Homo sapiens: one gene and its partners. The protein of the gene in region 3 purifies or fractionates together with the protein of the main gene of each other region. This does not show direct contact. Each region holds a gene or a part of one and is shown on either strand. Other genes may lie near its edges.

What was found.
Region 1: the proteins of C16orf87 (region 3) and MIER2 purify together in Homo sapiens (affinity purification with mass spectrometry; 2 studies listed by BioGRID and IntAct, with this or other methods). This does not show direct contact.
Region 2: the proteins of C16orf87 (region 3) and MIER3 purify together in Homo sapiens (co-immunoprecipitation; 3 studies listed by BioGRID and IntAct, with this or other methods). This does not show direct contact.
Region 4: the proteins of C16orf87 (region 3) and VRK3 purify together in Homo sapiens (affinity purification with mass spectrometry; one large-scale study listed by BioGRID and IntAct). This does not show direct contact.

The regions. Positions count from the first base shown.
Region 1 is NC_000019.10:339,643-347,658, reverse strand, and holds the start of MIER2 (mesoderm induction early response protein 2), read left to right. Parts: upstream 1-2,862; 5' UTR 2,863-2,876; coding exon 2,877-2,885; intron 2,886-3,184; exon of another isoform or gene 3,185-3,834; coding exon of another isoform or gene 3,835-3,849; exon of another isoform or gene 3,850-7,145; intron 7,146-8,016. UniProt on the Homo sapiens protein: Transcriptional repressor.
Region 2 is NC_000005.10:56,933,440-56,940,767, reverse strand, and holds part of MIER3 (mesoderm induction early response protein 3), read left to right. Parts: intron 1-1,750; coding exon 1,751-1,885; intron 1,886-3,069; coding exon 3,070-3,190; intron 3,191-5,016; coding exon 5,017-5,102; intron 5,103-5,267; coding exon 5,268-5,340; intron 5,341-7,328.
Region 3 is NC_000016.10:46,797,624-46,804,951, reverse strand, and holds part of C16orf87 (UPF0547 protein C16orf87), read left to right. Parts: intron 1-505; coding exon of another isoform or gene 506-576; exon of another isoform or gene 577-616; intron 617-1,881; coding exon 1,882-2,000; 3' UTR 2,001-7,328.
Region 4 is NC_000019.10:49,985,281-49,992,608, reverse strand, and holds part of VRK3 (serine/threonine-protein kinase VRK3), read left to right. Parts: intron 1-2,837; coding exon 2,838-2,970; intron 2,971-4,116; coding exon 4,117-4,237; intron 4,238-5,675; coding exon of another isoform or gene 5,676-5,772; exon of another isoform or gene 5,773-6,310; intron 6,311-7,328. UniProt on the Homo sapiens protein: Plays a role in the regulation of the cell cycle by phosphorylating the nuclear envelope protein barrier-to-autointegration factor/BAF that is required for disassembly and reassembly, respectively, of the nuclear envelope during mitosis.

The DNA of each region.
Region 1 (8,016 bases), on a different chromosome or scaffold from region 3:
GTTTATCTTTTCTGGCATTAACTTTTTTTTGTTGTTGTCGCTGTGGTTTTTTTTTTTTTTTTGAGACGGAGTCTTGCTCTGTCGCCCAGGCTGGAATGCAATGGTGCCATCTCGGCTCACTGCAGCCTCCACCTCCCGGTTTCAAGCGATTCTCTTGCCTCAGCCTCCCGAGTAGTTGGGACTACAGGTGTGCACCACCACGCCCGGCTAATTTTTTGTATTATTTTAGTAGAGATCAGGTTTCACCATGCTAGCTAGGCTGGTCTTGAACTCCTGACCTCGTGATCTTCCTGCTTCAGCCTCCCAAAGTGCTGGGATTACAGGTGTGAGCCACAGCGCCTGGCCTGTTTTGTTTTGAGATGGAGTTTTGCTCTTGTCGCCCAGGCTGGAGTGTAGTGGCGCAATCTCAGCTCACTGCAACCTCCGCCTCTCGGGTTCAAGTGATTCTCCTGCCTCAGCCTCCTGAGCAGCTGGGATTACAGGCACCCGCCACCACGCCCCATTGTGGCATTAACATTTCTGAAGAATACAGTCCCTCTTTTGTTTAACAGAATATTCCTTATTTGGGTTTGTCTGAAATTTCCTCATATGTAGATATGGGTTGTGCATTGCTGGCTGGATTCAGTGATGCCGTGTCCTGCTTTGGACACCACATCCAGGTGCACATGGTGTGCACCTGCCCTTTACCAGGGATGCTGAGTTTTATCACCCACCCAACAAGTGGCTTCATTTCTCCACTGCGACTAACAGTCTACGGAGACAGACTTTCAGACCTTAAAATATCCTTCACTCTTTTTTTTTTTTTTTTTTGAGACAGGTCTCACTCTGTTGCCCAGGCTGGGGTGCAGTGGCACAATCACTGCTTACCGCAGCCTCGACCTCCTGGGCTCAAGAGATCCTCCCACTTCGGCCTCCAGAGTAGCTGGGACTACAGGCACATTATCGTCATGCCCTCTAATGTTTAAAGTTTTTTTTTTTTTTTTTTGAAACAGTGTCTCACTCTGTTTCCCAGGCTGGAGTGCAGTGATCTTAGCTCACTGCAACCTCTGCCTTCCCAGGTTCAAGTGATTCTCTTGCCTTAGCCTCCACAGAATAGCTGGGATTATGGGCACTCGCCACCACGCCCGGATAATTTTTGTATTTTTAGTAGAGACAGGGTTTCACCCTGTTGCCCAGGCTGGTCTCAAACTCCTGACCTCAAGTGATCCTCCTGCCTCTGCCTCCCCAAGTGTTAGGATTAGAGGTGTGAGTCACCGTTCCAAGCCACAATACCCTTCTCTTCACCCAAGTCCTCATTTGACATCTATGTGATGATTCTTGCCAAGCCCTCTCCTAAGAGTCTTCCCTCGTTTTGCCAGGTGGACTCAAGCCCTTGTCTTCGGGCCCCTCCACCTGTTACAGCACAGCACCTCACTCTCTTATCTGTTCATGCTTCTCCCTGCTTCACAGGACCTCTGGCTACCCAGCACCCAGTTGAGGACTGCATAAGATATGTGTTTAGTTCACTGAATGACTGAATGAATAATAACAAATGAATAATAAAGGAAGGAACCAACTCTTGCACAAATCAGTGAGGACTCTTCAACACGAGGGCCAGAACCCTCAATCTCAATGATGTAAACCAAAAAAGGAGTGAGGGTAGACCCCTCCAGAGTGGTTCTTCTATCTCTTGGTTGGTGAATTCTCAGAGGACTGAGTAATGATTTTGCATCAGGAATCAAGGCTGATGCATGTCAAGTTCTCACTATTCATTGGCTGATCACTGGGAAACAGGAATGAGACTCATTCTCTTCTTCCTGGTCCCCAATTCCCTTCCTCCTGGTCCCCAATTCCCTTCTTCCTGGTCTCCAGTTCTCTTCTTCCTGGTCTCAGTAGGAACCGCCCTCCACTCATTTGCGCAAGCCAGACATCTGGAGGCCATCCTTCACTCTCTCCAGCTTCCCTCCATCAGCGAGTCTTGTGGTGTCCACCTTCTCAAGTCTCTCTGCACTCTGGTCCAGGCCCCACAGCTCCCACCTGGCCCCTGCCTCTTCACGCCCCACCCCTGCTTCCTATCCTCTCTCTGCATCGTGCGCCCCGAAGATTCACGGCACTTATCCGTCTCAAATTTAAGGTGTGGCGAGTCCTTGCCTTCCCATCCTCCACTCTAAACGCCCTGAAGACAGGCGTTAGGGCTGTCTCCTTCAAACCCTCAGGATCAGAACGTGCACGTGTTCCAGAAATGTTCAATCTGCGAAACGACGGACTGCAGAACCAAATGGCCCTGGGGTCAAGCCCACCTCCCTGCCTCCCGCCTTGGGCTCTCCGGCGCGGGGCCACCGTTTCTAAAACCTCTCCGACTGGTGCGCGTTCGCAAGCTCCCCGATTGGTTCCTCCGCGCGCTAGTTTGCTCATCACGGGTGCGAAAGTGCAGAAAATTCCAGAACCACGCAGCCCGGACACCAATTCTGGCTCTATCACTGACACTCTGGGTGGCCCGTCGCCCTGGGCCTCAGTTTCCTAGTCTGCCACGCGGGGTATTAACAGCGAGCAGCCGAGGGAATGAAGAGGTCACACAGGACCACGTGGTCCCCACGCAGGTGTGATTATCAGGAATTCGTATTTTTATGGAATGCAGTCTCCTCCGCCAAGGCCAAGGCCAAGATCAGGGTCCAGCAGAGACGGCCGGAAAGACACCGCAAGCTCGCCAGAAGCCGCCGGCCACGCTCGGCTGCGCGCCCGCGCCCGCGCCCGCGCACCTACTACGCGCCCGGCCCGCTCTCCGCCCCCTCCAGGCTCCGCCCCCTGCCCCGCCCTCCAGGCTCCACAGCCAATGAGTGCGCGGCCCCTCATCCGGGGATCCCGGCGCGGCCACCGCCTCCCGCGCACACACGGCCATGGCGGAGGTGAGTGAGCGGGCCGGGGGAGCCGGCCCCCCGCCCCCGCGCGTCCGCGCCCCCCGCCGCCGTGGCTCGGCCTCGTCGTGGGCCCCAGGGACGGAGAGCCCCGCTCTGGAGCTCTGAGGCCGGCCGGGGCGCCTGGCCCGTCCGGGGCCGGAGGGGCGCGGGGCTCCATCGGCGGCCGCCCCCGGCCGGCCCCCACCCCCCAACTCCCCCGGCTGCCACATCGCGGGCTGCAGTGCGCATGCGCGGCGGCGCGGGGCGGGCGGGGGCCGGGGTGGGGGAGGGGAGGGACGCGGGGCGGGGCTGGTGTCGGGGGTCCGGTGGGCGCGCGGCTCCGTTCCAGGGTCCGGCTCCGGTTCCCGGCCCCGGCCCGGGCCCCGCGGCGCGCAGGCCTCCCCTCCCGCGCCTTTGCCAACTTTGCCGAGTGCTGGGGCCGCCAGGCGCCCCGCGCTCCCCATCGGGATCCCGGTGGACCCACCGCGCCTCCGCCGCCCGCGAGCCCCCCGGCGGGGCTGGGTCAGACCCCGGGCGGGATTTGAACTCCCGACGCGGACCCGCCTGGCGCGAACTGGGCGCAGGGTGGGTGGGTCTGCCGGGGCCTAGAGAGCGTCGGGGCTGATCTCAGAAGAGTTGGACCAGCCTCTCCCGGGCACGAAGTTACTTCTGGAGCCTCCTCCCTCGTCCAGGAAACAAGCCCGGGACCCTTTATCTGAAATGTTTGGGACCAGCTATATTTTGGAATCCAGAATTTTTCCAATTTGAGGATCTGTGGGATTTTGGACTGTGATGTTTGATCAAACCCACCTAGGACTGTCTAGGATAAGACAACAGATAGCTTCGTGTCAGGTCAAACCAGGAAGGAAGAAACTTTCGCTTTTGAAGCTTTTTTTGATTTTGGAGTGGTGGATGAGCCTGTGTGGACTTGCTTTCACCTTGGAGGGCCCTGGTGAAGATGGAAAGAGATAATGTAGGTGAAGGTGCGGCGGCTGCGAGGTGCTCAGTCAGTGGGACTCAGTGCATGACTTCTGTGCGCAGAAGTTACGACAGGCGGGCAGACTCAAGAGCTGATCCTATCTCTGGGATAGAGCCCAAAGGAAAAGGTGCCCACCCAGCCAGGCACAGCCGCCTCGTGGGAAGCCGGGATTGGAACTGCGGCCTGGCCGTGGTGCCACGTTGCGTGTTTATGTCTTGGGCGTTGTGGGAGGCAGGACTGGCCATTCTCTCCCCCTGGTGACGACCTCAGGGGCAGTAACAGGCCCTGTGTTTATGCCAAAGACGGTGTAGGTGTCTCGATACTAGGCCAGACCACCGGCCAGTTCCTTCATCGAGAATTAGTTCTTCTTGAGACGCTTAGGGAGACTGAGTCCCCATGCAGATGGTGGCTGTCCTCCAGGGTCGGAGGCAGAAGCCGCGTCTCCCAGTGGCCCTGCAGCGACGTGGTGGTCGAATGAGTTGTGCTCCTGGAATCTGGGCAACACACGTGGCCTGACAGGTAGCTCTGTGTCTGGGATGGCACAAGTCAGACTCCCAAGCCAGCCTCCCCCAGAGCTGCCATGTGGCTGTTCTGCCCTGCTCTAGGCTGAGCTCCGTAAATGTGCACAGCAGCTTGTGGTCCGGCTGCTCCTGTTAACCCTGTTTTACACTTTGGGGTGGTGCCCTGTTGAGTGAATTTGATTTGATTTTCTAAGGAGGTCCCGCTCTGTCCTCGGCCTGAGGATCTGGGAGTGAATGGAGCAGACAGGGCCTCTCCTACAGGGATGCAGAGTCTGGTCAGAGAGAGACGTGGGTGGGTTAGGACCAACAAGTATGAGGTGCTGAGCGTGAGGAGCCATGGCAAGCTGTCTGACCACCGGACTTGTTCTGTGTGGTCTTGGGCAGGTTGCCCAGTGACTCAGAACTTCCTTTTCCTCATCTCTGAAATGGGAAGTTTAATGGTCACCCTTCAGAGCTAGGAGGTCTGATGAGGTCCTGCCACAACGGCTTGTACATGGAAGTTGAATCTTGTGAAGTTGACGATATTCCACTGTTTTTAACCCGTAAAAGTGGCAATTTGTAACTTTATAGCACGTGATCAGTACTAGCTACTTTATTCTGTATCAGTATCCCAGAATAATCATAAGCACCACAGTGGCAGACGGGAATGCTTCATACTTTTCTCAGGCATACTAGATTGATCTTTTAAAAACCTAAGAGCACCATCTTTTGCTCCTACCTAAAACCCTCCATGGCTTTTCATGGTCCCTGGGATAAAATGCTCCTCCTTGCTGAGTCCCACAGCCCTGTGAGGTGGTCCCCACGGATCTGCCCCCTACTCTAGGGCCCTGGGCTCCTGTTTGCTGGTGCACTCTACCCATTTGGGGGCTGCCAACGATGGTTCCACCTCGACTGAGGCCCCCCAGGCCTTCCCTGACCCGCAGTTGCAGAGCCCGTGCGCCCTGTTTTCTCTTCTCGGTACCATACATGTCCACTTGTTTGTTGTCTGTGTCCAAAACTAGCAACTCCATGTGGGTGGAGGCAGGTGGAACTTGTTTCTCAGGTTAACCACCACGCCACTGCCTTGCTGAGCCCAGAGTGGGCGCCCAGGGAACATTGGTCAGACGGAGGAGTGGGGTGCTGGGTAGTCCAACAAGCGCCTGGCACTTGAGTTGGTGTGGGTGGGAGGAGGGTCAAGCATGGCTCTTAGGAGGAGGTTGTTTCAGTCACACTGGGGAGAGGGCTTGGGGCATGGGAGAGGTAGGTGCAGCCATCTTGGCGAATGGAACCTGCCACCCTGTCATTTTGGGTTAAGCTTTGCAGGGTGGCCTCTTGTGTTTTTGGTGCACTCTATACCTGTGGGGGCTGCCCTGGGGGAAGGGCTGGTCTGTGCTCTGCACCCAGTCCTCTGGTGCAGTCTTTATGTTGAGTAGCTGGCTGCCGCTTCTACTGCCTGAAGACCCTGGTGGACGCCTGGGTCTGTGGCCTGTTGTCCTCTGGACCTTGTTTCTAGAATGCTGTTTACGCTTCCTTTGCTTTTTTTGTTGCCTGGAATACCGTTGGCCTGCTCCCCCTCTTTTTCCTGCTTCCACTTTGACAAAACAGAGGACTTTGTCTTTCCTGGGAGTGAACTCAGAGGGAAACATGCAGAGTGTTCTGAGTGAGTGAAGTAGAGTCCCTGGGAACCTGCTTTGAGAGTAGACTTGCACCTGGACACCAGGCAGGGGCAGCGGGAGGAAGAAGATCCATGAAGTCTGTATTCCGTGGTAAGTTCCAGGAACTCAGAGTCGCCTGGAAATGAACTTGGGGATCCCAGGCTGCTCAGGGCCTCCCTGTTAGCGGCCCTTTCTGCCGTTCCCAGCCGCTTCCCTCTTTGCCCCCCTCTGCCTTAGCTCTCCTGTTAAATGGCACGTCATATAAGGGCCAGATCCTCCTCAGACCCTGCAGACCACCTCTCCTGGGGCCATATGTTAACTCCCTGTTACTCGGTGTGGATCTCAAGCCTGCGGGACTGTTGTCAACTTGCCGTCCAGACTGGGGCCTCATTTGATGTGGTCGCCTGCCATCCCCTTGTTAGTCAGGCTCCTGGTTGCGGGAGTAGAAAGCCAGCCCCTGACTGAGGCAGGAACCGTTGCCCAGAGAACCTGTCCTCGACCCCTACCCAGAGGGTCCTAGAGGGGGCTGAGGGTGATTTCAGAGGTCACTTAGGATGCTTTCCCTGTGGCTTCACACCGCGTGTGGCTGTGTAGAGTGGTTGTGGGCTGGTGGCCACCTGCTGTGTCCTGGAAAGAGGTGAGGCCATCTCTGCCAGACCCAGGCCAACCCCAGGGCAGGAGGCGTGAGATGCCCCTGCAGCTGCCATGCACTCTGTGCTGCTTGCTTCCAGTCCCGTGGCCCCTTCCCCCTGGGGGCCCTGCTGGCTCTTCCTTCCCTCTGTCTTCTGTTTGCCCTCTGCCACCACGGAGCTAAACTTTCTAAAGCTGGATGGGTCCTGTCAGTCTCCACTTAGAGCTTGAGGTGCTCCTTGGTCCTTGGCAGCCTTGTTGCCAGAGTCACTCCAGGGCCAGTGGCTGCCCCAGCTCCCTTCCGTGGCTTTGCTGTACGTTGCTGTACAGTTGGCCCTTGAACCTCACGGGTTTGAACTGCATGGGTCACTTATACATGGATTTCCTTCCATCTCTGCCACCCCGAGACAGGAAGACCAACCCCTCCTCTTCCTCCTCAGCCTACTCAACGTGAAGATGATGAGGACGAAGACCTTTAGGATGATCCACTTCCACTTAATGAATAGTAAATACACTTTCTCTTTCTTACAATTTTCTTAATAACTTTTTCTGTAGTTTACTTTTTTTGTGAGAATACAGTACATAATACAATATATAAAATATGTGTTTATCAACTGTTGATGTTATCGGCAGTGCTCCCGACCAGCAGGAGGCTATTAATCAAGTGTCGGGGAGTCAGAAGTCATGCATGGGTTTTCACCTGTGTGGAGGGTTGGCACCCGTAACCCCTGCGTTGTTCAAGGGTCAACTGTACTAGCCGTTGTGTTCCCCAGTAGTGTGATGGGCTGGAAGGTGTTTGCAAGCCGCTGGCCTGAGCTCCACTTTGTAACTGCACCACTGAACCTGCTGTGTGAGCTTGGGTAACTGACTCTATCTCTTTGAGCTTGTTTCCTTGTTTTTTTGTGAGGGGAATGATTATACCACCTGTGAGGTTTTTTCTTGAGGACCCGTGAAGAAGTATTGAAATTCTTACTACACAAGTTTTTAAACTTCATTAAATATTTTAATCTACCCTTTTTGGCAGCAGCTTTCCCGAGGTATAATTCATTTACCATGCAGTTCACCGTTTTAATGTGTCCAGTTCAGTGGTTGTTAGTGTATTCACCCAGTTGTGCAGCCACCATCACAGTCAATTTTAAAACATTTTCATCACCCCAAAAGGAACCCCACACCCCTTAGTGGTCACTCCCCAAACCCCAGATCAACTCCCAGCCCCTTTCCACCAGGAATCCATTTTCTGTCTCTACGAATTTGCCTGCTCTAGACATTTGAGATTAAATGAGTCATACGACACGTGGCCTTTTGTGTCTGGCTGTTTCAGGAGCATGAGTCTTTCGAGGTGCGTCCATGTGGTAGTGTGTCAGTGCGTCCTTCTT
Region 2 (7,328 bases), on a different chromosome or scaffold from region 3:
AAATAATTCATTGAAGTTTCCCCATGGTGTAGGTGAACTTCACCCTGTTCTGACCATCCAATTCAATTTATGCTGATTCCATGCTCCCAGAGGACTTTTGGTTGATTTAAATCCCAAGCTAAAAAAGATTTTCATGATCATTTATGGTCATTAGAAAGGCGTATGTCTACTACTGCAAATTTATAAATTAGTGTTCTATCATATACCTGTTTGTAAGTTCATTGAGCATAAATCTGTTTTAGTTAGACACAATAAATTATGTAAGTTCCATACCTGCAAAGGTGAAGGCCAAACTTTTGCATCCCCTGTGGGCCCTGTGGGCAGCCAGCTGGCCCTCTAAGGAATCATCACTGGCTCTTCTCAGGTCACTTTGTGATCAACTGTGGGCATGTTTTGCACACTCTGCTTTAGTGTTTTCATGTTGTTTGCTTTACGGATTATTTTATTTTAAAGGGAAAACTAAACCATAAGCAAATTTTAAAAATCTCTTAATTGATGGATACAGAAATCTTAAAAATGTTTAACAGATTAACTAGTTCGTGAGTATATTGTTTTGAGGTTATTTATTCGAATGATAAATAGTTCTTTTTTTGTATTTTTAGTAGAGACGGGGTTTCACCATGTTGGCCAGGCTGGTCTCGAACTCCTGACCTCAAGTGATCTGCCTGCCTCGGCCTCCCAAAATGCTAGGATTACAGGAGTGAGCCACTGCGACTGGCCTTGAATGATAAATAGTTCTATACACTTTAGTAGTTAAAACATAGTCATGTGTCACTGAACAAGGGAATACATTCTGAAAAAGGCGTCATTAGGCAGTTTCATTGCTGTGTGAACATCATAGAGTATGCTTAGACAAAAGTAGTTAATGTAGCCTACTACACACCTAGGCTATATGGTGTAGCATATTATTCCTACCACAGCTGTATGTGCATCCTGGCTGTATATGCAGTCTGCATGTACTGAATGTTACGTTGTGCATGGTAACACTTATTTTCACATGGATTCCTAGAGGGGAACAGTGACTTGGTGTCACTGTGAGGCATGGCGTAGGTATTCATAACATAGGCAGCACTGTAGCCAGGGTATGTAATTTTATTAAAGCAGTGCAGCCAGTGAGATAACTTGGGGAACTGGGATTCAAACCCAGAATTAAGCCACAGTTTTCTCACCTGTGAAATGGTGATAACAGTATAATCTTCCTCAGACAGTTGTTTTAAAAAAACTGGTATAAAGATAGGAGATGTAGTAAGAATATAAAAGGATAATTGTTCTTTGAACATAAATATTGCTGATGTTAGTAAACATTCAGCAAAGGTTTTCTACCAGGTGTCTTCTAATTAACATGAAGAATAAAGCAAGTGGTCAGCTGTTAAATGCAAGGAAAGAAGCTGTGAATTACAAGTTATTGATTGATTAATTGGAAATGTTTTCAGGGCAAATCTTTATGTTAACTTGAAAGCAAAAAAAAAGGCACTAAAGCAAATATTTGAGGAATTTTTAAAATAGTAAAATGCTTCTAGAAAATAAAAACTAAGGTGTTAATTGTTAGGCTGTTGTTTATACATTAATTATAGCTCCAGGTGTTTGGTCCTGTTTTCTGACAACAGCACAAAAAGAAAAACTGAAACTTGCCTTTGATTTGTTCTGCTGTTTTGATAATGTGCTTTCTGAACCTAAGGACAGTACAGTTTACCTGCAGTTCAGTATTGTGACATCTGCTGAGTCCGTGTTTATGCCCTGGCTTGAACAGGAAGGAACCATGCCTCTAGAAGATTTACTGGCATTCTATGGCTATGAACCTACAATTCCAGCAGTTGCAAATTCCAGTGCAAATAGTTCCCCAAGTGAACTGGCAGATGAACTACCAGACATGACACTAGACAAAGTAAGTGTGAGCATTTGAAAGAAAAATTCAGGGTCTGTTACCATTGACTGCTTTTACTTCCATTTAAAGTATTATTTAATAATTCTTAAATGTAAACTTCTTGTTGACCCATTGTGCTTATTTTGGTGGCTGATTTAAACTTTGTTTGGCTTTGATCACCCTATGTTAAGAGTAGTATTAATAGCAGCTTCATGGTACTTTGCATGCCTGAATATTCTCCCATAATGTTTTCATCTTTCCTGTGTAGACACATTGTATCTAAACTTAGATTTTGCCTTAACTTCTTTTGATCCTATAAACACATAAAAGCCTTGATTAATAAATCCCCCAGAAGCCTTCAAACCAAGCTGGCTTAGGCGTGGAGTGGTTGGAGAGAAGTTCTGTTTTCTTGGCTCTGGGAGTGACAGCGGCCGCAGCAGCCAAGACCGCGGTGATCCATCTCTAACGTAGGCTGGTTGTGGGGAGGCCTAGTCCCTGCTGAGGAAAATTCACACGGCCATGGCCTCTGCTAACAGATCCCTGGGAACCTTTCCTTGCCTTTCAGATCTCAGGCAGGGAGAGGAATCCACATCTTGGAACCTCTTCCTGTGAGTTATATTGTTCCCACTTTTAAGTCAATGTGATATTAATGTACCACAGACCTTAATGACCATAGTCATTCAACAAGTATTTATTGAGTGGCTACTTTGTGCTAGGCACAAGGATGACTGTATACTTACATAAAAATTAATTCAAACTTGTTTCTTTTAAAATTATGTCAGTAGTCAGTGCTGTTCATTAGTCGGACTTTTAAATTATTGGAAGAGTGGAGGTTGGAGGCATTTTTTCAGTTTTATTATTGACAGAAAATGAATATAATTGTTAACCACTTAAAAGTCAGACTGTTTTTGTTGTAAATTCACTAAAAATTAGCCTACAGCTTTAGATAAGCTCTCTGCATACCCACAAATTAGGCAATTGTTTTAGTATATGGTTGCACTGATTATCATTTAATAGTATATTATTGAATATTATATAATATATAATATTAAATATTTATGTACATGAAGTAAATCATAGGAGAATTTCATATTTCTCTCATAAGGTTCCAACTGCTTCTTAATGATATGTTATAAAAAGATAGTTTTCTTAATTAATGAGATGTAATCATTTCTAACTGTAGCACTGCCTTCTTATTCTTCCAGGAGGAAATAGCAAAAGACCTGTTGTCAGGTGATGACGAGGAAACTCAGTCTTCTGCGGATGATCTGACGCCATCTGTGACTTCCCATGAAACTTCTGATTTCTTCCCTAGGCCTTTACGATGTAAGAAACCCAGTGGATTACTGATAAATAGTAACATTGATACTGTAGCTTTAGTACATTTTATTGTGTTCAGTAATTTGTGTCAGAATATTCTAATATTTTATGTGGTTGAGATAAAATACTTCTATAATTTAAACAAGATTATAACCTTTCTTTTGGGATAGAGGTGAACTAATATGCCATTTAAAAATTGAAATATTTGGCCAGGTGCAGTGGCTCACACCTGTAATCCCAGCACTTTGGGAGGCCGAGGCAGACAGATCACTTGAGGCCAGGAGTTTGAGACCAGCCTAGCCAACATGGTGAAACCTGTTCTTTACTAGAAATACAAAAAATTAGCCAGGTGTGGTGGCATGCACTTGTAATCCCAGCTACTTGGGAGGCTGAGGCACGAGAATCACTTGAACCTTGGGGGTGAAGGTTGCAGCCAGCTGGAGATCATGCTACTGCACTGCAGCCTGGGTGACAGAGAGAGATTCTGTCTCAATAATAATAATAATAATAAGATAAAATAAAAATGGAAATATTGACTTTATTTTTACAAGGCCATTTTCCTTCTCAAGACTCATCTGTTGCTATGGTAATCATTCTTAGTTTGACCACAAAATTTTATAGACCTTTATTTGAATTTCTATTAAAAGGCTCCTGCTCTCCTGGTTTTGAAAACTTATCAGTGCTCAAAAGGTATTTTTACTTTTAATGATTCATCTTTTTCCTATTAGTTCTTGGTGTTACCTCTTAATGTTTATCAGTAATATTTAAAAGGTTTTGGGGTTGGTTGTGTGGTTGCAACACTTTGGGAGGCTGAGATGAGAGGATCACTTTAGGCCAGGAGTTCTAGACCACCCTGGGTAACATAGCAAGACCCTGTCTCTACAAAAAAATTTTCAAATAAAAAACTTAGCTGGGCATAGTGGCATGCACATGTAGTCCCAGCTATCTGGGAGGCTGAGGTAGGAGGATCACTGAAGCTCAGGACTTTGAGGTCACAGGGAGCCATGAACAGGCTACTGCTCTCCAGCCTGGGTGACAGAGTGAGACCCTGTTTCTAAAAATAAATAAATAAAATGTTTGGACTAAAATAATTTCTTAGATGCAATCTCACTTTTTTTTTTTAGGTATTTTTATGATAGAAGAACTGTTTGGTCAATAAGTTCAAATATCCATGCATTCGTGTGTGTACAAAAACAGTTTTGATGGACCTGATATGCAACTCTGTGTGTGTATCTCCTGGATTAGTATAATCAGAACTCCAGTGTTTTACTTTCTTTTTAAGGTGACCACAGTGGTTTCCTTTTACCTCCCAAACTATTTAATAGTATACCATAATAATTATCAGGATACTATACACTTTTTTTTTTGAGATGGAGTCTCACTCTGTTGCCCAGGCTGGAGTGCAATGGCGTGATCTTGGCTTACTGCCACCTTTGCCTCCCAGGTTCAGGCGATTCTCCTGCCTCAGCCTCCCGAGTAGCTGGGATGACAGGCACCCCCCACCACGCCCGGCTAATTTTTTTGTATTTTTAGTAGAGCCTGTCGGCCAGGCTGGTCTTAAACTCCTGACCTCAAGCGATCCACCCACCTCAGCCTCCCAAAGTGCTAGGATTACAGCCATGAGAGCCACTGCACCGGCCAGGATACTATACACTTTATTAGGATTTTCAGTGTCTCATTTTGACCAATGTCGATTGTGAGAAACATGCAGGTGGTTTAGTATACTTATGCTGATCTCACATATTTAACAACATTTTGTAAAATACAACAGGCATTCTTCCAGGTTCTGCAAAAATAGGCAGTAAAAACCTTTTTAATTTTTGTCTTTTAAGCAAATACTGCATGTGATGGTGATAAGGAATCAGAGGTTGAAGATGTTGAAACAGACAGTGGTAATTCACCTGAAGATTTGAGGAAGGTAAGCTGAGTTAATATAGTGGACTAAATTGGCTTTTAAAAATATTTCTGAAATGATTTATGATAATTTTGTTGTTTTGACTTGTAGAAACTGATTAATGATATGGGGCTTTTTTTCAGTATTTTTTTTTTAATAAGTTATTTTTACCTCTCAATTTTCCTGTAGGAAATAATGATTGGTTTACAATATCAGGCAGAGATTCCCCCTTATCTTGGAGAGTACGATGGTAATGAGAAAGGTAAGGAAAGCTTTTGATTTTGATAATGTTTGGTAGATAAGGTTACCACTTGATAAGTGTATTTAAATATCTGGCTTTATACCAGCCTTGGCAATAGATAGATAGATTTGGGAAACATGCAGAGTTAGGATTTTTAGGCCTGACTTAGGAAAAATGTATCAAAGTTAATCACTAGACTCAGAGTTTCCCCCCACCCCCAACCCTGCCCAAGGCACACATAGTGCTTATTAGCCAGTGTGCTCAGTGCCTGTTCGAATAATGGGGAGCCTCCCACGGTGCTGTACCTTGGCCTTCATCCTGCTTCAGTAGAAGTGGGTAGGATCTCATCACCTGAGATAATGAGAATGTTAAGATATAATCTTCTGGAAAGAAAACTCTTGAGGGAAAAAGAGACTGGAAGAAATTCTCCTTCCCCAGCCCCAAAAGAGCAGGAAGTGAAATGTAAGGATCTGCTTTCACTTGTATACTCCTAATTATGTGTAATCAGTTTTTCCTCATGTTTTTGGTGCATTCCAACTGTAGTTGGTTTTCAAAATATGGAGGGGATAAGGTAGTAGGATATAAAAATATAGGTAAACCTTCTTAGTTGAACTTGGGAATATTTCCATGGGTGTTTGGCCTTTTCCCTAAGTTGATTTATCCTTGTGAAGTCACAAGGGCAAAAGCAGCACCCAACACAATACTTCCTGAGTCCTTCTTTTTTCCTTTCCTCCATGCCAGGTCATCCTCCATTTAAAGGAGGGGAGGAGTGGTTACCCTGGGGTTGTTAGCCATGGCAGCCACTAGGAACACCGTTTTCCTAAACTGCTTTCAAAGTGTTAAAAGACAGTTATCCCAGGGGAAGCAAAACATAGCTGATGATGTTCAGATGTGCCAGCCTTCTCACCTCACCACCCAAATGCCACACTTGGCCTTTGAGCCAAGTACATACTCAGCAACTGTAGGTCCTTAGGTCACACATAGTAGAGGTGATATTCTGTCAGTGCTGCAGATTGGAGGGAAGGTGTACTTTCTCTGTCTTTTGAGGGAATAAACCCAAATTGTTTTACCTATTTCACTTGTGACCAAAGAGTAAAGAAAGTTCTAGGAACTTCTCTCAAAAGTCAAGTCTTACTGCTTCACAGGCACACTTTATTTTTAACTTTCCTTCTAACTGGCAATGACAATGCCTGCCTCCTACAGTTGGGATGATAATGCCCTTATCATGGTCCCTGGTATCTGGTAGTGTGTTCTCGGTAAATTATTTTTATTAGCTATAGTCAGTATTTATTATGCACTTGAAGAACAGATTGCACTTGAAGCACTGGACTAAATACTTGGGCCATTCATATTACTTTATAGTGTAAAGTAGAAGCTTTGAGTAAAGTGGCAGAGTGCATTAATAAAACATAAACTTGTTTTAATGACATTTTGTTCATTAATATATCAGTGTCTTTAAGAGATTGTGGAAAGTTTACTTTTCTTACTGTTTCTCCCTCTTCCCAAAAACCTCCCTAGGGAGGTTTGGTTAATCTATTTTCTCCTTTAAATAAAAGTTATCTTGTTGGGAGAAAAAGTATACCCTTCTTAGGTATTTCCTTATTACCAGATATTTTGGGTTTTATTTATTTGCAATTTTGAACCTCTAGAGATTTCATAGAGCAATTTAGGGATTTCAAGAGAAAAGTCCAATGAGGTTATTAGAGAATTTACACAGGTTATTTTTGCCCCTTCATTAGAAGAGTATAAGATAACCACTATGGGGTTTTATATTAGACTTTACTAGGCATGGAGAGCCTTCAGATTGGTCAGTATATCCAACCACCAAAAAAGCTACTTGCTTTGGCCCCTGGAATCCTTGGCCTATAATAAAGTTAAATTTTCGCTTGTGTGTGAAAGGCCCTACTTAACGGATAATCGGATTACTGGTGTCTTCAAAGTTATTTACTTGTCCCACTGGATAGCCAATCAAGGAAGACAAAGAATTGTTTGTGTACATCTTTGAGTGC
Region 3 (7,328 bases):
CCCAGCAAAGAACAAACTACTGATATATGACTAGCATCAATGAATTTCAAAAACATGTTGAGCAAAATAAGCTAGGCACAAAAGAGTACATACTATATATGATGCCATTTATATGAAGTTTAGGAACAGACAGAATGATTCTGTGGTAATAGAAATCAGAACAGTGGTTGCTTGTAGGTGTAGAGAGGGATTGGCTGGAAAGAAGCATGAGGAATTTCTGGAGGAAATTTGTTATATGTTGATTGTGACATGGGTTACATGTTTGTATATGTTTGTCAGAACTCCTCCAGTTGAACACATAAAAGATCTGTGTATTCACTATATGTAAATTTATCATTGATTTTAAAAATAACTATAAAAAAGGTATTGGTTTTCTCAACAATGGCACCAGTAGTCAGAAGACAGTTTACTGCCTTCACAGTTCTAAGCGGAAACCTACAAGTCTATACTCAATCAAACTATGAATTAATGTGAAGGTAGACTAAAGATATTTTCTGACATTCAGGGTCTCAAAAAATTTGCTACCAATACTGCCTTTCTCAGGAAGCCCCTACAAGTTACCTGCTACCAAAATGAAGAAATAAACCAAGAAAGGATCTTTGGATTCAAGACAAAGGTGGGTCCACCCAACTCTAGAGATGAGAGTCTCCAGCATGATGCTGATGAAAGAGCACAAGATGATAATTTTGCAGTAGGCCTAGAGAGCAATCATTTCATACTGGAGCAGGTTGGAAGACTTGGAGCGATTTCTTCAAGAAGATAAAAATGATAAAATACCTGATACGTGTAAACATCCTGAAAAACAATTTATACAACTAGGAAAGACATTGGGTTGAGTTAGAAATGAAAACTAAGCAAGTAAAAAGAGAATCACTTCAGGGAAAACAATGTAAAGGAAAAGTGAAAAATCACTTACCATAGGCATAATAATGTAATCACTGAAAACTGATGTTACTAAAGTTGTGATTTAATTATAGTGAGAAGATGAGGGATGGGCAGAGTGTTTATTGGGGCAAGAGATGCAAAACAGTGTAACCCTTATTTTCCCTGGTGGAAAGTGAATCAGTAATGCCTAAAACCCTGAAGTAGCATCTTGTACAAATGTTACTTAGAGATTTGTTTTTGTAAAAGCAAAAAGGAACAACTGAAAAAAAAAGTCACAAAAAAAGTAGTTGCATTTGGAGAGTGGAAAATGTGTATGGGGCAAAGGACTTCTGTTTTTTTTTTTTAACAAGTTTTATAAAAATGATTTGATTGTAAATTATATGCATTTAACTTTGATTAGACTGTCAAAACAAAATAAACAAAAATAGAATCAGGGGATCCTGAAAAAGTAACTTGGAAGAATATACACCAAGATGTTAATTGTGATTTTTGCTGACTCATGAGATTACGAGTGATTTTTATTTTCTTTTTCAAATTTTCTGTGAACTTGGATTACATTTGTAATCGAGAGGGGAAAAATAAAAATAAATGTCATTTCCTGTATAAGAAGATGAAGATGAATATGTTAATGTATTCATAAAGTCACCATTGATGTTCAGAAGGGGACCATCTCTCAGAGTGAATTTCGTCTAGCAGAGAAAATTCATTTTGATTGAGACAGTGAGGAGATAGAAATGTATGAGATTCTTAGAAAAATTATGTAGCTGTTAGAGTGCCTGTGTATAGAAATAAATATTGTCTTCATTTAATCTTCATTTCAGTAACTCCTTTGTATAATTTAAAAAACTTTTTAGTTCAGTAGCATAGTAACATTTAATGTATATTGTAGTATTATATATAATACTGTCATTTAAAGAAATACTTGAAAGCTTTAAAAAATTTAAATTTACTGCATCTACTGCCTTTATATTAAACTTTCCCTTTTTCTTTTAACAGAGAAACAGGAAAAGGAAATTGACATCTATGCTAACCTGTCTGATGAAAAGGCTTTCGTGTTTTCAGTCGCCTTGGCAGAAATAAATAGAAAAATTATCAATCAAAGACTTATTCTCTGATACTTGTTTGCAAAATCTGCTGAAACTTCTGTCAGGATAACATCAGCAAATTCTCAAACAGTTATGGACTCTCAGGAGCATTCTGACTGCATCAATAAGGGCCATCGATTGTTTCTTTCTCGCCTGTCGTTTAGCCTGTGCCACACTTCGGGAGCAAAGCTGTGTAGGCTTGGACTGTTCTGGGATTTCCTTGTTTACCAAGGAGTATTGTCAGTGTTTTGTGTTTGGGATATAAGTAAGTGTATTTGCCAACAACAAAAAAAAACCAACAAAAATGCTGGATGGATGTTAAAGGATAAAAAGTGATGGGGTATGGGGTAGGTATGAAAACTAGGGTAATAAGATGCTTGATTGTTTTCAGGTTTGCCACCAGAGATGCAATATTTTAAATACTGTCAGAAAGAGTGATTTTTAAAAATATATATTTCAGATTTTCAGTGCTAACAGATTGCATATATACAGTTCATTTACTTTTATTAAATTGGCAATCGATATTTTATTGAATGGGGAATTAAGAATATAAACTGTAAATTTTGTCTTAAATTGATTTTTTTTCTTGGCCTTTATTTTTATTACTTAAGGTATGAGTTATATTTTAGGAGATACTTTCTAGACAGTTTGAAGTTTGGGTGCTATATGAAGAAAAACATTTAATGATATACTCAGATATAAACACCTTGTTTTCTTGAATGTAATTTATTTATTAGCTAAAAAAAAAAAACAAACTGCTCTCAAGATGGTGCCTGTTAACCTAAACATGAAATATATTTATTACATGCAAAATATTTCTTAGCCACTTTTAAGCAGTAATGTTTTATCTGAATGGATATTTGTTTCTATATCCTGATAATTATTTAAATTGTTACTTTCAATCTGGAAGAAAAAATAAACCTTAATATTGAAACTAAGTAGATTAAATAGTGTGATAAAAGTTTTTTGTTCTGGTGAAGTTTGTGAAATATATTTAAATTCTTAATTTTTCTAGTGTTAAGTCATAATCGTTTATAGTTGATTTATATTAAATGCTTTTGCATTTTGGCATATCAATTTAATGATTAACATATTCAAACTTGGTAATCACTCCCCTTATTTTCAGTCGCTCTTCCCCCAATCTGTTTAGAAATCCTTTTAAAGCCTTCTTACAGAAGATAGTCATCAGTTAGATTTAGCCCCCTTTTAAGAGAATCTCCCTTTCAATTTTAGCCGTAACATTATCAATTTCAGACTTCATCCTGCATCTCCCATCACCTCCTCAAAGAAAAAAGGTCAACATTTTTTCCTACTTTATTTAAATGGTAACCAGCAGAGGGAGCTTAAGAGGTACTCTAGATAGGATAAAGAATTTTCCTAAGGATTCCTTTTCCTTTAATCCCTGTATCTATCTGCAGGTACTACTGCAACTATTTTGTATGCATTTTATTTATTTATTTAGGAGACAGAGTCTTGCTCGGTCGCCCAGGCTGGAGTGCAGTGGCACTGTCTCAGCTCACTGCAACCTCTGCCTCCTGGGTTCAAGTGATTCTTATGCCTCAGCCTCCTGAGTAGCTGTGACTAGAGGCGTGCGCCACCACGCCTGGCTGTTTTTTTTTTTGTATTTTTTAGTACAGATGGGGTCTCAGCATGTTGGCCAGGCTGGTCTCAAATTCCTGGCCTTAGGTGATCTGCCCGCCTTGGCCTCCCAAAGTGCTGGGATTACAGGCATGAGCCACTGCACTCAGCCTTGTGTGCGTTTTAGAGTCTTAACTAGTAGTTTCCCCAATAATGTAATGTGATTTTATCTTTGAAACATACTGTAAGGAAACTTTTGATTTTAAGTAAAAAAGCTTAAAAATGATTAATATCTAAAAATGCTTGTATACATATATATGTCCTCAGAAAAAGCAAGAACAGCTTGTGGAATAAGCACGTCTTTAAGGAATTATCGATGTCAGAGTCTATCCATTTAAAGCTGAAGACCATTACAGGAAAGTCATGTTAAAATATTCATTGGATATGGTAAAGGAGGTACTGGTGGCTGGGCTGGAGCTTGCCGTATAGAAAAGTAATTACTTCAGATCTCATAATGTTAAATTATTGGCTTATTTAAAAATTTCCGTGGCAGAGAGGCAAATTAGGTTTCCTCTGTGACATAACCTATTTAACCAATTTTTCAAAAAATTGTACTCTATGAGCTTTCTTGTTATAAAGCTAAAAAATTTAATTTGTCTAGGCATGTTGTAATGGTCCCAGAAAATATTACTTTGTCACTGGTGTCAGAGAAACCTCTGTCATCAGCAGATGTCCTAAGAGTATAATTATAGTTCTTTACTTAATCCAAAATTTGTTCTGCTCTGATATCTATAAATGATATGATTATTCAAAATACCTTGAAATGATTCCACAATTAGATTAGGTCTGTTGAAGATAACTTATTCTTAAATATGAGTAAGATTAAATAAAAGTAGTTTGAGAGTTGTTACTCCCTGCCTCAACTCCATGGTATTCCAAAATGTTTTTGTGGGCACTTTAATACTTGTAGTTTGATTTTGTTTGTTAGTTTTAGAAATGAACATTTCTTAGATTTTCATGGGTATTTTTTGGCTGTATTTAAATGTAAATGATATAAAAGTAAGGGAAATTGTGCAAATTATTTCTTGTGTAGTAATCAGTGGAAGTGATCAAACAGCTTGAAGCAGTTTATGATGAGAAAATTTAAAATTGCAAATGACCTGAAAATTTAGCCAGTCTATTCTTATTTCTTTAAATTTCAGAAATACTTAAGAAAAAAAAAAAAAAGGTCAGTATGACCTCTGAGTTGCTTCCTAAAAGTAATCAGATAGTGTTCTCCCTCAGATAAGATTTCAAATTGAAAAGTATTTGACTTCTTTAACTCTAGTAATTGCACTTGATTCTCTAATTCTGATCATTAAAATGACTTGGCAATATTTAATTTTGGCTTGCCTTTCAATCTGCATGTTTGTCTTAAATTTAGAAAAATTAAGCTCTTTACTTACTTTTATATAAAGTATTAATTGGCCAGGCATGGTGGCTTACACCTGTAATCCCAACACTTTGGGAGGCCAAGGCAGGAGAGTTGTTTGAAGCCAGGAGTTTGAGACCAGCCTGGGCAACATGATGAGACCGCGTCTCTACAAAAAGTAAAATTAGCTGGGTGTGGTGCTTCCAGCTACTAGGCAGCTGAGGCTAAAGGATCACTTGAGCCCAGGAGTTCGAGGCTGCAGTGAGTGATGATCTTGCCACTGCACTCCAGCCTGGGAGGCAGAGCAAGAAACACCCTGTGTGAAAAAAGTATTGAATTTGTTTGATTCCACTTTCAAAATATGCTCTAGATACAGGTAGTCATTCTGCCAAATTGTGTTCTTCTCTAAAACATTTTGTCCGTCATTCTTTGAAACTCATTCTTAATTATTTCCACTTTACCTTCTAGTTTGGTTTGATGCCTTATATTCTTGCTAGTTAAAAGCATTTTTTCCCTAGTATTTTCTGTCTTTCTAGCCTTTAAGGCATATTGTTGTTAACAAATCTCTTATTTAAGTTAATTAAAGTTTTTTCTGTGCAGCTGGGTTTTTTCTTTTACTACATGACAAGCTTCATTTTTACATTTGGAAGTACATGTATATATGTTTATATATTTTTATTCTCAGGATCTATTTTCTAGGGAACTATTTTTTTAAATTATTCTTTTGTGCTGCCTTAACCCATTTATTATAGTTTGAATATTAGTAGTACTTACTACTCAAAGATTACAACTATACTAATAACTATCCTAACATACAAAGCAGACTCTCCAGGATTAAAAGTATGAGACATATAACAGAGTCTGGAATAGAATAATTCTTTTTACCCCAGTCAAGTATTTGCCTTTTGCATTATTAAGGAATCTGTTTTGTTCTTTTATTGATAATTTCTATATTTTTTTCTTTGCCTTATTGCACTGGTTGGGACTTTTTGCCTTGATCCAGTTGTAGGGGGGAAACATTCAGTCATTAAGCATTAAATAACTTTGTTGTTGTTGTGGGCTTGAAAAAATACCCTTTAGTAGATTGAGGGTAGACTCTTTTATTTCTGCTTGTTGGAAGTTTTCTGTCAGGAACAGATGTTGAATTTTGTCAGATGCTTTTTCTGCATAATTGATAGGACCTTTTTTCTCCCCTTTAGAATGTTCATATGGTGAAACATACTGATAGCTTTTCTTTTCTTTTTTTTTTGACACGGAGTCTCACTCTGTCACCCAGGCTGGAGTGCAATGGTGCGATCTTGGCTCACTGCACCCTCTGCCTCTTGGGTTCAAGCTTCCCTCACCAGCCTCCCAAGTACCTGGGTATACAGGTGTGCATCACCATGCCCGGCTAATTTTTGAATTTTTAGTAGAGATAGGTTTTTACCATGTTGGCCAGGCTGGTCTTCAACTCCTGACTCAGCCTCCCAAAGTGTTGGGATTACAGTCTCGCTCTGTCGCCCAGGCTGGAGGGCAGTGGTGTGATCTTGGCTCAATGCAACCTTGCAACCTCTGCCTCCCGAGTTCAAGCGATTCTCCTGCCTTAGCCTCCTGAGTAGCTGGAATTACAGGCGCACGCCACTACACCCAGCTTCTTTTTGTATTTTTAGTAGAGATGGAGTTTCACCATGTTGGCCAAGCTGGTCTCGAACTCCTGAGCTCCGGTGATCCACCCGCCTTTACAGGCATGAGCCACCGTGCCCGGCTGCATTTCTCTTTTGTAAGAACCTGCTCTGGTTTATTGATATTTTGCTGTTTTTCTGTTTTAAGTTTCATTAATTTCTGATCTTTAGTATTTTCTCCTTTCTTTGCTTTGGGCTTATTTGCTCCCTTTTCTAGCTTATTGTGGCGGAAGCTCAGATCATTGATTTTAAAATTTACTTATTTATTTATTTATTTATTTAATTCAACACTGATCAGAAGGCTTTTTGTGCTTTTCTAAAAAAAGCATTTAATGCTATAAATTTCCCATTTGCTTTATCTCACAAATTTTATTGTGTTGTAATTTTGTGTTCAATTTAGAATATTCTGATTTTTCTTGGTATTACTATAATTTTCAAATATTTAGAGTTTTTTTCAGTTATCTTTCTGTTACTGATTGTAATTTATTGTTTTTTAAAATTATAGTTCTTTGAATAGTTTTGCAGTATTTGCTCTAGGGATTACTATAAACATACTTCACTTTTTACAGTTCACTTAGAAGTCAATATTTTACCAGTTCAAGTGGAATGTAGAAAAATCTTACCACTGTTTACATTCCTTTACCCTCTCCCCTTTATGTTATAATTTTCTTATAAATCATAAGACTTGGCTGGGCACAGTGGCTCACC
Region 4 (7,328 bases), on a different chromosome or scaffold from region 3:
ACTATAGAGATGTAACTTAAAACAAGATACTATTTTCACCCTTTGAACAAAATTAAGCATGATAATAATATTCATTGCTGATAAGGATATAAGGAAGTAGGAATTCTTCATATACTGTTGGAAGCATGAATTGGGAAACCCTTTTGGAAGGCAATAACAGTCACAGTTTTAAATGCACCTGTTTTTTGTCTTTGATTTTGTTTTGAGATGGAGTTTCACTCTTGTTGCCCAGGCTGGAGTGCAATGGCACGATCTCGGCTCATCACAACCTCCACCTCCTGGGTTCAAGCGATTCTCTGTCAGCCTCCTGAGTAGCTGGGATTACAGGCATGCGCCACTACGCCTAGCTAATTTTGTATTTTTAGTAGAGATGGGGTTTCTCCATGTTGGTCAGGCTGGCCTCGAACTCCTGACCTCAGGTGATCCGCCCGCCTTTGCCTCCCAAGGTGCTGGGATTACAGGCCTGAGCCACCGTGCCCGGCCAAAATGCACCTGTTTTTTGATCCACAAGTTCCTGTCTTAGGAAGGTGTCCTACCTATATATTCATAGGATTGTTCAAAGATAAGTGTACAAGATGTTCCTGGCAACACTGATTGTAATAGTGAAATGGGAAACACCTTAAGCGGGATACTGATTAAATAGTATTTTAAAGTAACTTCTAATTGCTCTTACAATTACAAATGACAGAAACCCAACTTTACATGCCTTAAGCCAAAAACCAAAAGGGACTGTGTGCAATGTATTAGTCCACAGAATGGAGCAATCCAGGACTGCACTGTCTCGGGCACGGCAGGATCCAGGAGCTCAAACCCTGTCATTGGGAAGCCGGCTCTCCCATCTCTGGACTCCTCATGCTTCTGCACTGCTCGTTGTCAGGCAGACTTATTCCTCATGGTGACAAAATTGCCACCAGCAAATTAGGCTTAAATCCCCAAAGCTTAGCAGCCCTGGCAGAAACAGACCTGAACTGCGTGGACTGAGAACTGGGGAAAAGCAATCCCAGATGAAAATCCTGGAACTAAGCATTAGGAATCTTCAGAGAAACAGAACTGGCAGGGTGTGTGTGTGTGTGCGTGTGTGTGTGTGTGTAGAGATTTATTATAAGGAATTGGCTTATTGATAATGGAAGCTAAGCAGTCCTGAGATTCTTCAGTTTGCAATCTGGAGACCTAGGAGAGCCAATGATGTAAGTTCCAATCCAAAGGCCAGCAGGCCTGAGACCCAAGAAGAGGGGTTGTTTCAGTTCAAGTCCAAAGGCAGGAAAAGACCAATGTTCTAGCTCAAGCAGTCAGGGAGGAGGAGCTTCTGGTTACTTAGCTTTTTATTCTATTCACATCTTGAGTTGATTGAATGAGACCCACCCACATTAAGGAGAATAATCTGCCTTGCTCAGTCTACAAACCCCAATGTTCATCTCATCCAGAACACCCTCATAGACACTCCCAGAATAGGGTTTGGCCAAATGTCTGGGCACCCCATGGCCCAGTCAAGTTGCCACATAAAAATGACCATCATGGCCAGGCCCAGTGGCTCACACCTGTAATTCCAGCAGTTTAGGAGGCCAAAGTGGAAGGATCGGATCGCTTGAGCCCAGGAGTTCGAGACCAGCCTGGGAAACATAGGGAACCTCATCTGTACAAAATAAAAAATAATAACCTATCCAGGTGTAGTGGCATACACATGTGGTTCCAGCTACTCAGGAGGCTGAGGTAGAAGGATCACCTGAGCCCAGGAGATGGAGACTGCAGTGAGCCATGATCATACCACTGCACTCCAACCTGCGTGACCCAGTGAGACCCTGTCTCAAAACTTAAAAAAAAAAAATTATTTTTTTAATGAACACCACAAACTGTAAACAGAAAAACAGGGAGCCGGGGAAGTGTATATAGGTCTTACATAGACAAAACCAACAGTTGTCCACTATCCATATGGTGGAATAAGATGCAGCCATTGAAAAGAAGACATGGACTGGGCACAGTGGCCAAGGCAGGAGGATCACTTGAACCCAGGGGTTCAAGACCAGCCTGGGCAACAGGGCAAAACCCCATCTTTACAAAAAATCGGCTGGGCATGGTGGTGCATGCCTGTAGTCCCAGCTACTCGGGAGGCTGAGGTGGGAGGATCACTGGAGCCTAGGAGGCTGCAGTGAGCCGTGATCGCGCCACTGCACTCCAGCCTGGGTGACAGAGTGAAACCCCATCTCAAAATAAATAAGTAGATATTTTTGAAAGAAGATTTGGTTAACTTTATGTATCAGGCAGAAAGCATTTAACTTTTGTTTTAAACTCAGTTAAGCCTTATAAGAACCCTTTGAGGTGGGGACTATTATTATCATCATTTTACAAATGGAGAAATCATAGCAGAGAGAACTGGTATAGCTTGCCCAAGGTTGTACCGCCACCAGCGGGCTGAGTTGGCATTTGAACCCAGGCCATCTGGCCCCAGAGTTAATGCCCAGAACCACTATTAAAGTGTAAAGTGCCGGTGCCCAACAGGAGGTCTGGTGTGAGGCCTCTGTGGAAAACAAGAGCCCCCTCCCCATCCACATATGTTTACCTGGTTATTTAAAAAAAAAAAAAAATTTTGGAATGATGCATACGAAACTGTTACTAGTGGTTATTTCTGGGCGATGGGTTTTAGGGGCTGGGAGGAAATATGGATGGCTGGTTTGGGTTCTTTTTACTTCACATCATTTTTACTATGAGCATGCCTTAGTTTTGTAAGTGAAAAATGCCATCTTTGGTAGAATGTTTGTTGTCACTTGCACCCACGATGGAAATCTCTGACTTCTACGCTCCTAACCTCCAATCTGTATGGCTTTTCCCTGTGTCCACAGGTGACTTTGGCAGGCTATGGCTTCGCCTTCCGCTATTGCCCAAGTGGCAAACACGTGGCCTACGTGGAAGGCAGCAGGAGCCCTCACGAGGGGGACCTTGAGTTCATTAGCATGGACCTGCACAAGGGATGCGGTACGAGGCCAGGGATGGGTTTGGGACCGCAGAGAGATGCTTCTTATACAAGGGCAGCTCTAGGAGTTCACAGCCAGAGACAGCAGGTGGCCAGACAGGAGAGGCACTAAGGGCGCCAGGACAGGGATTGGAACCACAGACAGCGTCCCGACCGCAAGGGAGGTGGGTGGGGTAGCGGTTCAGCACTAAGCATAGTGGGAGGCTGGGCACTGGGGAGCCTGAGTTCCAGAGGTTGGGGTTCAGGATCTGTTGTAGACTTGGAAGATGGGAGTTGCCTAGGAGTCATCCAGGAGGGGCTGTTGAGGAGGTGGTTGGCCACCACATCTGGAGTGTGGGAGGGAGATCTGGGCAGAGGCTCTGCAGTATCTCAGAAGTTATCAGCCGAAGCCCTGGGAGAGGATGGGATCATCCAGGGAAAGTGTACAGACTAGGAAGAGGGCCCAGGGCAGATTTCTTGAGCCCCTCTTTCTCACATCCCTTTATATCATGGCCGTCCACATGCCTGCCACATCCTCCCATCAGACTGAGCTCCCCCAGTACAGGGATGGCACCCCTGCCTCCAGCATCGGGTGGTGGAAGGCCAGCACGGACAAGTAGTGCTTGTCGAGTGCTTACACAAAGCGTTGTCTAAATTAAGCGTTGTCTTATGCTCAGGAAGCATAAGAAAAATAAACTGTCAGAGTCTCCCCCGCCCTCCCCCACTGAGGCTGGGTTTGGTACCCATCCTTCTGGGCTCCCGTGTGTTCTGTGTCCTTTGTCACTCAGGTAGTCGCACGCTATAGCTGTCTCCCCACTAGGCTGTCACGGGCTGGGACCCGACGAGATCCTGGTCTGGGTTTTCAGAAGTGAGCTGGGCCTGGCACACGGGTGCTGAGGCTTGATTGAATGAGTGCATGAATGAAAGAGGAGTGGATGAGGGTGACCTGGTAAAAGGGGCTGAGAGAATGGTTGAGTGAGAGAGAGAATGAGTCAGCTTCTGCCTACTCATGAAAGTGAATGAGCGGAGGAGACAGCCCATATGGCTGGAAGGCTGGGTGTATGAGTGTGTGGTTGAGTCAGTGAGAGAGAGGGGAAGGAAGGGGGGTGGACCCACCAGTGAGTGGAGCGTCCAGACTTGAGCTGCCACCTTTACTCCTCCTTCCCCAGGGCCCTCCCGCCGCAGCGACCTCCAGAGCCTGGGCTACTGCATGCTGAAGTGGCTCTACGGGTTTCTGCCATGGACAAATTGCCTTCCCAACACTGAGGACATCATGAAGCAAAAACAGAAGTGAGTCTAGGGGTCAGCAGAACCCCTGCAGGTGGTCAGCAGAACCCCTGCAGGTGGACAGAAGCCCAGAGCCCAACTGGGAGCAGGAGGGAAGGGGAGGTGGCATCCAGCAGAGCCCAAGTCCTCTGAGCCGCACAGGCATGTGCTGCAGTGTCCACACAGCAGGCGAGGCAGGTGTTCCGGAGCCACACTGCCTGGGCTCAGACTCTGGCACCACCACTGTGGGGTGTTAACGTCTGCGAGCCTCAGTGTCCTGCTCCATGAGATGGTCTCCTACTAGCTACTACCTTATGGGACTGCAAAGAGTTCAGGGAAGTCAGGTGCACACAGCACTTAGCACAGGGGCTGGCTCAGAGAAAATGCTCATTGTGGCCGGGCGCGGTGGCTCACGCCTGTAATCCCAGCACTTTGGGAGGCAGAGGCGGGCGGATCACGAGGTCAGGAGATCGAGACCATCCTGACTAACACAGTGAAACCCCGTCTCTACTAAAAATACAAAAAATTAGCCAGGCATGGTGGCGGGCGCCTGTAGTCCCAGCTACTTGGGAGGCTGAGGCAGGAGAATGGCGTGAACCTGGGAGTGGGAGCTTGCAGTGAGCCAAGATTGCACCACTGCACTCCAGCCTGGGCGACAGAGCGAGACTCCGTCTCAAAAAAAAAAAAAAAAAAAAGCTCATTGTGTGTGGGAAACTATGACTCATTCATCACAAACATGCAGGCAATCTGAGCAGGATAGGCCCAGGCCCTGCCTCAGCACTGGTAGCACCACCTATGCAGTGTCCACACTGCCAGATCAGTGCCTTCACCTCTGTGTAAACCACCAGGTCTTACCAGTGCTGGTTTAAACATTCAGCACCAAAGCCGGTGGACAGCGGAACATATGAGGAAGTTCTGGGGTGAGATTGAACACTAAGGGCATTGAGCAGCTGGACACAGAGGGAGCACTAGGGGTATGGGTTCAGCACTAGGGACAGCAGGCAGCTGGGCACAAAAGGGAGGCACTAAGGTGTGTGTTCAGCACCAAGAACAGCAGGCAGCGGGACACAAAAGGGAAGTGCTAGGGATGTGGGTTCAGCACCAGGGACAGCGGAGCACAAAAGGGAAGCGCTGTGGGTATGAGTTCAGCACCAAGGACAGTGGGCAGCTGATCCTAGCGGGCGTGCTAGGCATGCACTTCAGACATGAATATCAGTTGCCCAGGCCGGGCACGGTGGTTCACGCCTTAATCCCAGCACTTTGGGAGGCCAAGGCAGATGGATCTCGAGGTCAGCAGTTCGAGACCAGCCTGGCCAACATAGTGAAACTCTGTCTCTACTGAAAATAACAAAAATTAGCCGAAGCAGTGGTGGGCACCTGTAATCCCTGCTGAGGCAGGAAAATTGCTTGAACCCGGGAGGTGGAGGTTGCAGTGAGCCGAGCTCTCGCCACTGCATTCCAGCCTGGGTGACAAAGCAAGACTCCGTCTTGGACTTGTTGCCCAAGTCATCTGGGAGGCAGCTGGCCATCTACGTCTGAAGTGCAGGAGTGAAGTCTAAAGGGAGACTCAGACCCCGGGAATATCTCCGGAGCCATCAGCTGAAGCCCCAGGAGAGGATGAGATTATCTGGGAAGGCATATAGAGTGGGAAGAGGGTGAACCCTCCAGTAAATGGCGTTGAGTCCCTCATGTTTCCCTGTCCTTAGTGTGCCGTGAAGTCCTTCCCAGTCCTTCCCTCACATGAAGCCTTTCTCGTTTTATTTTACTCCCTTCGTGTCTCCCAACTTCCTTCTCTCAACCATGGACAGCTGCTCAAGCACACTTAACATGTGTTCTGATGTGTTCACTTAGATGTATTTGTACCCTCAAAATCGCATGCTGGCCGTGGTGCTGTGTGTGATTTGCGTAAGTGATGTTCCACTCTGCGTCTCATCTGTCTCTGGCTCTCTTCAGCTTTAACCCTATCCCTACATGTGGACCGAGTTCACTGCTTCTGACTCCGGCTTCTAAATCAATTTTCTATAGACATGTCTGTGTCCTTAAACTATATATGGTGGTACTGTGTGTTAATTTGTATAAATGGCACTATGCTCTAAACCTCATGCTGTTTCTTGCCTTCTTTCACTCAATGTTATGTTTTTAACTTTAACTATACACCTAGTTCACTACTTCTGAATACTCCTAAATGTGTTAGTTTAGATGCATCTGTGTCCTTAAAAACTCTATGATGTTCTTGGGTATGTGTTTAATTGGCATAAGTGGCACCATGCCCAGAATTTCATCCTCCTTCAGAGAAGGGGATGTGTGTCGTCATTTTGACTTCCTTCTACTGACTGTTCAAAGCTAACATTTATTATACACTTGTCTGTGCCAGGCACTGCCCCTGGTGCTTCCCCTGCATCCTCACAACTGCTCTGAGCTGCGTGCTCTCGTGATCTGTGGCACAGAGAGCTTAGGTAATCAGTCCAGGCCACACAGCTACTAAGCAGGGGCTCCTGGGCTCAAACCTGGGCCATTCAACTCCAGAGACAGCCCATGTCACCTACGTGCTGCTTCCCAAGTGGAGGAGGCTTATGAGGTGAACTGGTGGTTCCTGGACCCAGCCTACCTTCACTCAACAAATACTGAACCCTTGCCATGTGCTAGACTCTGTTCTAGGCCCTGGGGATACAGGAATGAGTAAGACAAAAATCCCTGCCCTCAGGGAGCTCACATCCTATTGCGGGAGACAGGAGCTAAAGGGTGAAACACATGGTGTGTCAGAGGTCAGACTGATGAGGGTCATGAGGCCAGGTCCTGGGTGTCCACTGGTGGGACTGTTGGTGGGGGTGTGCAGCACACTTGTAGGTCTAATGTCAGGGGCAGGTCTCGCAGCGATGGTAACAGGTAAAATGCCCCCTGAAGGACCATGAAGCTTTAAACAGTGGCAAGAAGGATGACACAGTTTGATGCTAATTTGCCCCAACATCCCTGCGGAAAGAGGAAGAGACAGGCCTTCAGCCCCCAGACTTCCGCAGGCAACCTCTGCATGGGAAGCCAGCCTCAGGACCTGCTAGAACACAAGTCCATTGCCCCATTTTCTTGGAGCTTATTTTTACACTTACTCTCTAGCTTT